2 linked regions of the Homo sapiens genome follow. The protein of the gene in region 1 interacts with the protein of each later gene in a pairwise test. Each region holds a gene or a part of one and is shown on either strand. Other genes may lie near its edges. The genes, in order: MTMR6 and AATK.

Region 1 (3,907 bases):
CCCCAGTCTGTTCTTGGAAATGTATTAAGTCAGATGTTTAGGAAGCAACTACAATTCTTTCTGGTCACTAACACTGAAGTACTAAGAAACTATTAGGATCCTTAAATTATAGGTATCATCACAGCCAAAAAGTAAATGAAAAAAAAGAAAAAAAGACTTTGGGAAAAGAAAGAACAAACGAAAAACGAAAATGTGGCAAGGAGAAAGGAATTGGAAGATGTCGCTTTGGTGAGGAATGGTAAATGCCAACACACATTACTTTAAGGACTATTTAGTTGAATTGTTGCCAACTATGGGCCTGCACTAAAAGGTACCCTAATGGTCCAGGCAGAAAGTTCAAATTTCAGCCAATTATAAAATTAGAACTGGAAAACACAGAGAACCCCACACATACAGAATCACACTCAGAAAATGTTGGGGCCACTACAGGTGTAGTAGCTTACGCTTGTAATCCCAACACTTTGGGAGGCCAAGGCAGGAGGATTGCTTGAGACCAGGAGTCTGAGAACCAGTCTGAGCAACATAGTGACACCCTCATCTCTACAGAAAAAGAAAATTATTTTCTAATTAGCCAGGCATGGTGGCATGCTCCTGCAGACCCAGCTACTTGGGAGGTAAAGGCAGGAGGATCGTTTGAGCCCAGGAGGTAGAGGCTGCAATGAGTTATGATCATACCACTGCACTCCAGCCTAGGTGACAGAGCAAGATCTTGTTGGAAAGGAAAGGAGAAAGACAGGAGAAAGGACAAAGAAGAAAGGAGAAAGGAAAGGGGAAAGAGAAAAGAGGAAAGGAAAAGGAAGGAAAGGAAGAGAAAAGAAAAAAAAGAAGAAAAGATTCCAAATGAAAAACACAGGGAGTCACACAAACAGAATCACATTCAGAAAATTCAGACACCTCTTTATCCCTGAGGAAAAAGTGGCCTCTGGGACAGGAAGGGACCAATGGCCTTCTTCAGACTTCTGTGACCAACAGTTGTACTTATTCTACAACTACATAACAATAGACGCTGTGGCTACTGAAGCAGAAAGTGCACCATCACTGTTCCTCTGGCTTGTCGCACTCCTTCCCTATAGCCAGGCACTCATCTAGGACTCTCAGAATCATTTCACACTGACATCCTGCCAAGAATTAGCTTTCAAAAAGAAAGCACATCAAGTTGTGTGCAGGAAGTGGAGGGCAGAGATTATGGTTTCTGTTCATGTATCCCAATTTCTAGAACAGTGTCTGGCTGCATAAATTATCAAATGAAACAGTCATGGACCTCAAGAGGGGAGAGAGTAACCTCAGATCGTAAATCCAGTGGGCACTTTTCAGTTTTTTCTTACTTTGCTTATTCCATCAATGGCTTCCTATCTCACTCAAAAAAAGCAAAGATTTTACAGTGGCCTTCAAGACTACAGTAACTTGCCCCTGTCCCCCAACTTTAATCTTCTACTGTGCTCTTCTTCACTCACCCTGCTCTAGCTGTCTTGCTTGTTCTTAGCAACCAGGCATGCCCTCAAAGGGTTTTTGCCCCTGTTGTTCCCTTTGTTGGGACTCTCCCCGCCATCCCCCATGTGGGGATGGCTTACTCCCTCACCAGTTTCAGGTTTATACTCAAGAGTCACCTTCTCTGTAAGAGCTTCCCTAACCACTCAATTTATAGCAGTCCTCCCTTAAACCCCCTCCTCAACCCTCATACTCTTCAGAGCCCTGGCTTGCTTTATTTTTATCCACAGCATTTACCACCATCTAACATACAATACATTGAACTTAATTTTGTTTATTGTTACCTCTTCTCCAACTAGATAAGTTATAAGGGCAGGAGTTTTTGTCTGAACCTAGAACAGTGCCTGGCCCAAGGAGGAGGAAGCAGCCAGAGGATGGAGCAGAGAAGGAAATTAGAACACGGAAGACTGTCACCTTCCCATCTGTGCTTCACCTCTTCCAAATGCATCCGGCTTCTCCTCCTCTGCTTGCTCGCCCTCTTCTTTTTTCTTTTTTCTTTTTTCTTTTTTTTTTTTTGAGACAGAGTGCTGCTCTGTGACCCAGGCTGGATGCCGTGGCACGATCTCGGCTCACTGCAATCTCCATCTTCTGGGTTCAAGTGATTATCATGCCTCAGCCACCCAAGTAGCTGGGATTACAGGTGCCCGCCACCATGCCCAGCTAATTTTTTGTATTTTTAGTAAGACAGGGTTTCACCATGTTGGCCAGGCTGGTTTCAAACTCCTGACCTCAAGTGATCCTACTGCCTCGACCTCCCAAAGTGCTAGGATTACAGGTGTGAACCACCATGCCCGGCCTGCTTGTCCCTTTTTAAGTGTTTAGACTTTTCTCCACAGAGTCTCAACATATTCTCCTTGCATAAACTCATTCACAATAGAAATTTCAATGATTTACCTAAACACAAACAACTCCCTCCCAAATCTACTCAAGGCCAGACCTTTTCCCTCACACTAGATCCTCACATTCAGCTAGCTACTAGAAAAAAATCTGACCACCTAAGCTTCTTCTATCCACCCCTCCTCTCTGTTCTTACTCACACTGCCCCAACTGACTAATCAAATCTCTTGATTAGATTATTATTCTGTGAGGCAAGAGAGTGTGGTTAAGAGAATAGGCTTGCTATCAGAAAGACCTACATTCAAGTTCCCACCTCCACCTCTTCTTTGGTAGAACTAACTGTGTGAGCCAGGACAAGTTATTTTATTAATTCTCTCAGGGTTTCAGTTTCCTCACCTGTAAAATGGGATAGTATTAGTGAAAATCAAAACAACACTTTACTTGGAAAAAAGCATTCAGGTGCTCCTCAAAACCTATTGGCTTTTATTTCAAAGACAATTTAAATAATATCAGTTTCTCCTTATTCTTGATCCATTCTTATTTTTATATCTCCTTTCTTCTTTCAGAGGGAAGGTATATTTGTATACATACATAGATGATCTCACATTCTAATGACAAAAAGAGGGAGCAAGCTAAAGAACATGTTAGGCATAACTTTTGGAATAACTCAATTTGGGCCTTAGTAGGATCAGATTTTTATGGGACATTCCATTTGATTACAAACGCTAGCAATCAGCCTTTCATTTATAGCTTAAAAAAGGTTCTTCCATTCCATTCAGTAAAGTTCCATTCACAGGTAAGACAATATCATTTGACATCAATATATAATGTCAGCCAAAGTACTGGCAGGGAAAGGAGAAAGACTGCATAAAGAACTGTCTCTGCATATTTCTCATTGTTTCTTGGCAGGACTATGTCATTATGGCAAAATGAGAGCTCAAAGCGATAGGTAGTAGCTGCATGATTCATAAGTGTAGCTTGGAAATGCTCTTTCAGAAATCCAGATTCAGGGACTTGGCATCTTTGATGCTATACAGTTAGTAAACCAAATGTGACCAAAACAGAATGATAAATATGTTCATTAGTATTCAGCTAAAATACTTAATCTGATAAATCTCTGGTTAGCAAGCAATAATGATCCTAAATATTATTTAAAAACAATACCGCATAAATATTATTTATTTATGACAAAAAGAGGTTTGGGGGGGAAGCTCTTAGAATTATCATCAGCATTTATTTCTGAATTAATACTAATGCACATTTAACAATTAGATTAAAACTAGAGAGGCACTGGAAAGAGCATACATAGTCTTTGGAGTTAAACACACCTTAGTTTAAATACTAATTCTATCTCTTGTGAACTAATTGAGCAGGTTACTTAAATTCTCTAAGCCTATTTCCTCCTCACCTATAAATGGAGATAATACTACCCAACTGACAGGGTTATTTAAGAGATCAGTGATGATAATGTATAAATTAACAGATTTATACAATTGTACATATTATAAAGTAATAATATTGTATAATTGGCTATATTGACATATAGTTGCTCAATAAATGGTAATTATTACTTTTCAAATAG
Region 2 (3,907 bases), on another chromosome or scaffold:
ACCCACGCGGCTTCTTTACCTGCAACGGCAGCCTGGCGGCAGCGCCCCTTAGAACCTTGGCTGGCCACATGATCAGGGCCAGGAAGAAGGCTCTGGGTGCCCTGTCTCCTTCTGCCCCAGGTGCAGTTGGTGTCTTGTCTCCTACAGCCAGGGACCCCTAAGGTCTGAGGGCACAGGGTGGAGGCCCCTTGCTTTGCCTGTTAGGAGGAAACTTCCTACATGAGGGACCCCCTTAGGAAAAGAAGGGTGGGTCCTGGTGCCCATCTGCCCCGTGGCCCAAGCATCCTGTCCTGGTCTCTGCAGGTCCCTCTGCCGGGAACAGGCTCCTTTCTCTCCCTAAAGTCCTAAGAGCCCTGTTGGAGTGGGCGCCTCTCACCTGCTCCACAGCCCCCAACCCCAACTGGGCCTTGCCAAGGGGCTTAGCCATCTGGTCCCAGAATGAGTGAGTGAATGAATGAGTGAGTGAATGAATGAGTGAGTGAATGAATGAGTGGATGAGGGTGCATCAAACTCAACTGCAAGTCTCCAGGACACTTTTTTTGAGACAAGATCTTGTTGTCACCCGGGCTGGAGTGCAGTGGTGCCATCTTGGCTCACTGCGGCCTCTAACTCCCAGGCTCAAGTGATCCTCCCACCTCAGCCTCCCAAGTAGCTGAGACTACAGGTGAGCGCCACCATGCCTGGCTCATTTTTCTAATTTTTGTAGAGAAAGTGTCTTGCTATGTTGCCCAGGCTGGTCTGGAACCCCTGAGCACAAGCCACCCGCCTGCCCTGGCCTCCCAAAGTGCTGGGATTACAGGCATGAGCCACTGGGACCAGCTTCCACTGAACTTTAACTCTCCCGACTCCCACGGGGGCAGGCTGGGGGGACCCTGCCCCGCCCCAACCCTGCAAGGTGGCACTTTGGGCGGGGATGGGGGATCCTGGGAGAAACATAGGGGAAGGGATGGCCCCTCAGCGCCCAGGCCAACCTGCTGCCCTAAGCACCTGGTACAGTCCACGGCAGGTGGAGACTCAGCCAGGTTCTTCCTTCATGGCTGTCGCAGCACGGTACAGGAGCAGGCCTGTGTGCAAAGCCAGCCACCCCCACTCCACCAGCACAGGTGCCACCCAAAGGGCATGGGGTGGGGGGGCGGCTGCCAGCCGCCTCGAAACCTGCAAGTGAGGCGAGGGCCCCTGAGCACCAAGACCCGCCCTGGGTGTGCTCCCGGGTTCCCCCACCTGTCTCCCTGAACCTTTCCACCTAGGAGTACCCCCTCCCCCACCCCGGCGTTCCCTCCGTACCCACTCACGACTTACCATTCACGACTTCCGTTTCCCCCCCCCCCGCCAGCCTCCGTGCCCCCCTCAGCCCCAGGCCGCCGTGCTTCCCGCTCCGGACCATCCCCCCACTCCGTGCCATCCCCGCTCCGTGCACGGCCCCCCGTCCCCCCTCCTCCATGCCTCCCCTCCGTGTCCCCCCTCCAAGCCCCCTTCTGTGTCCCCCACTCCGTGCTCCCCTCTGTCTCCCCCTCCGTGTCCCCCTCTCCGTGCTCCCCCCATGCCACCCCGGCCGCGGAGGGCCCCCCCCTCCCCCGCGCCGCTCCGCGCGCGCTCCCGCCCGCGTTTTCGGACTGCACCAGCGGAGCCCCGCGGCGCCAGGGCCGGGCGGAGCGCCTCGTCTGTCGCCGCCGCCCCCACCGGTGCGGGCTCTGCGGCTGCGGCGGGGGGCGCGGGGCGCGGGGGCCGGCGCGCTCCGCACCTGCGGCGGCCGCTGGGTGATGCGGCGGCTCGGGCCGGGGCCGCGGGCGTCCTGAGCGCAGCGCCCTCCCGGGATGCCCGCCGGCCGCTGGCCCGGCCATGTCGTCGTCCTTCTTCAACCCCAGCTTCGCCTTCAGCTCGCACTTCGACCCCGGTGAGTCCCTGGCGGCCCGGCCTGCGCGCCGCTGCCTCCCTCCGCTGCGGACGTGATGCCCCTGGGCCCCACGGCTCCCGGTTTGCATGGAAATTAACCCTTTCCCCGCCCCGAGCCCAGCAGCAGAAGCAGCCGGACCCCCTGGCGGCCCCAGATCTCGGAGGGGCAGGCCCTGGGCCCCAGCACAAACCGGCCTCCGCCTGTGGGCTGGCGTCCCCCGCGTGGTCGTGACTCCGTGGCTGCCTCCAGGGCACAGGTAACTGGGGCACGGAGGGCCTGCGTGGGCCCCTGGTGTCCAGGAGAGTTGGTCTCAGACTAAGGGCCCTTGGGGGTGTGGGGGGTGTCAGCCAGCTGGGGTTCAGGCTTTCCATGGCCTCTCCTGGGTCCGGGGCCCTGGCGTGGGAGGCTTCTTCCCAGGCTGGGAGCGATTCTCAGAGCCCTGCCCAGCCACCAGCAGCCGGCGGGGGATGTGGGGGGAGCAGGGGCCAGTCCACATTACAGAGCCCAGTGGGCAGAGGCTCAGAAGAGAGGGGCCTTGGTGGGTGCCCAGATCCCCTGACAGTGGGGGCCCGAGGTGACGCTGTCAAGCTGGCTGCAGGGGACCTGAGGCCAGGCCTCTTACCCCGTATGGCCAGTGCACCGGGCAGGGCGAGATTACCCATGGCTGCCTGGCCTCCTGGCTGTGGTGGACAGCTGGGATAGGCAGAGGGGGCTGGGGACAGCTGGAAGCCCCATCTGTCACCAGGAAGCAGTGGGCTTTCTAAAACCTCTGCTTCTCCAGATCCGGCCCCTGCTTGGCCTGAGTGGGAGATAATCCCCCTGCCCTGTGCCATCCATGGCCCCAGGGCCAAGTCCCACCCACACGTCACTGGGGCTCTGGCACCAGGCTGAGCCAGCCCAAACAAAGCCTGTTTGCATGTGACGTGATCTCCTGTGTCTCCTTCCCTGGAGCAGGGCCCAGTGCACGCAGCCTGGCAGGGAGGCACGGGGGTCCCCGGGGCAGATCTCGGTCTGAAGGCATTTGCTCCCTGGAGGAAGGGAGCTGGTGGGAGGTCTGTCTGCTGGGCTTAGGGCTGTGGGTGTCACTTGCTCAGAAATGACTTCCTGTAGTGACCCCTGGGGCTCGGAAGTCCCTGTGGGGTGGGCAGGTGAAGGCTCAGAGCCCAACAGCCACGGCAACAGCTGTAATGTCTCCCCGGCCCAAGGGCAGGGGGTGGAGGAGGCTTGGGGCAGGTCCTCATCACATCTCCATGCCAGGCGTGGCCCACGGTGCTTGGTCCTTTCTGCCCCCAGAACAGAGAGGACCCTCGGCCCATACCCTGCCTCGGGGCCCAGCCTTGTCCTTGGCCATGAGAGGCCCTTTCCCCCGCCTTCGAGCAGCACCGGCTCTGCCCTTCTCTGGGTAAACAGCTGTGATCTGAATAATTCTAATGTGTCCGTTTAATGACTTAGAGGAAAAGAAGTTGTTGGAGGCAAGGGGCGTCTCTCCTCTGCAAGATGCTGGGCCAGAGCTGCAGGCACCTGCTGGGCTCTGGGGCCCACCTACCAGGAGGGGCTGCCCAAGGTGCTGGTGCTGGTGAGGAAGGAGACCCTCCTTCGGATTAAGGGGCTGGGTCTAGGCTCTGCACCAGCCCCCATGAGAGGGTTAGGGAGGAGAGAGGGGTCTCCTGCCCTCCCGCTAAACTTAGCCCAGCCTTCCAAGCCTGGCTGTCCTGTGCTGCAGTCCCTCTGCCTGGCCTTGCCTCTGTGAACCTCGGTTTTCCCATCTATGACATGGGCCGACAGTACCTGTGGCAGGCCCGGGTGGGCTCAGTGCTTGGTGAGCACTTGGCTGTCTGTGCTGGAGTGGTGGTGCTGGGACAGAGACCCCCAGGGCCCAAGCTTCCTACAGCATGTGGCTGGCTCCTTGCCATCCCCGAATTGGAGCGAGCTGGTTCCTTCTGAGGCTGCTTGTGTCTGTGGGGGGGCACCCAGAGGGGAGGGGCCCACGCTTGTGGCTCTGGCAGTTGGCTT

The links.
Region 2: the proteins of MTMR6 (region 1) and AATK interact in a two-hybrid assay, tested with the Homo sapiens proteins (one study listed by BioGRID and IntAct).

Annotation. Positions count from the first base shown.
Region 1 is NC_000013.11:25,280,621-25,284,527, forward strand, and holds part of MTMR6 (phosphatidylinositol-3,5-bisphosphate 3-phosphatase MTMR6), read right to left. Parts: intron 1-3,907. UniProt on the Homo sapiens protein: Lipid phosphatase that specifically dephosphorylates the D-3 position of phosphatidylinositol 3-phosphate and phosphatidylinositol 3,5-bisphosphate, generating phosphatidylinositol and phosphatidylinositol 5-phosphate.
Region 2 is NC_000017.11:81,163,925-81,167,831, reverse strand, and holds the start of AATK (serine/threonine-protein kinase LMTK1), read left to right. Parts: upstream 1-1,610; 5' UTR 1,611-1,839; coding exon 1,840-1,894; intron 1,895-2,084; exon of another isoform or gene 2,085-2,325; intron 2,326-3,907. UniProt on the Homo sapiens protein: May be involved in neuronal differentiation.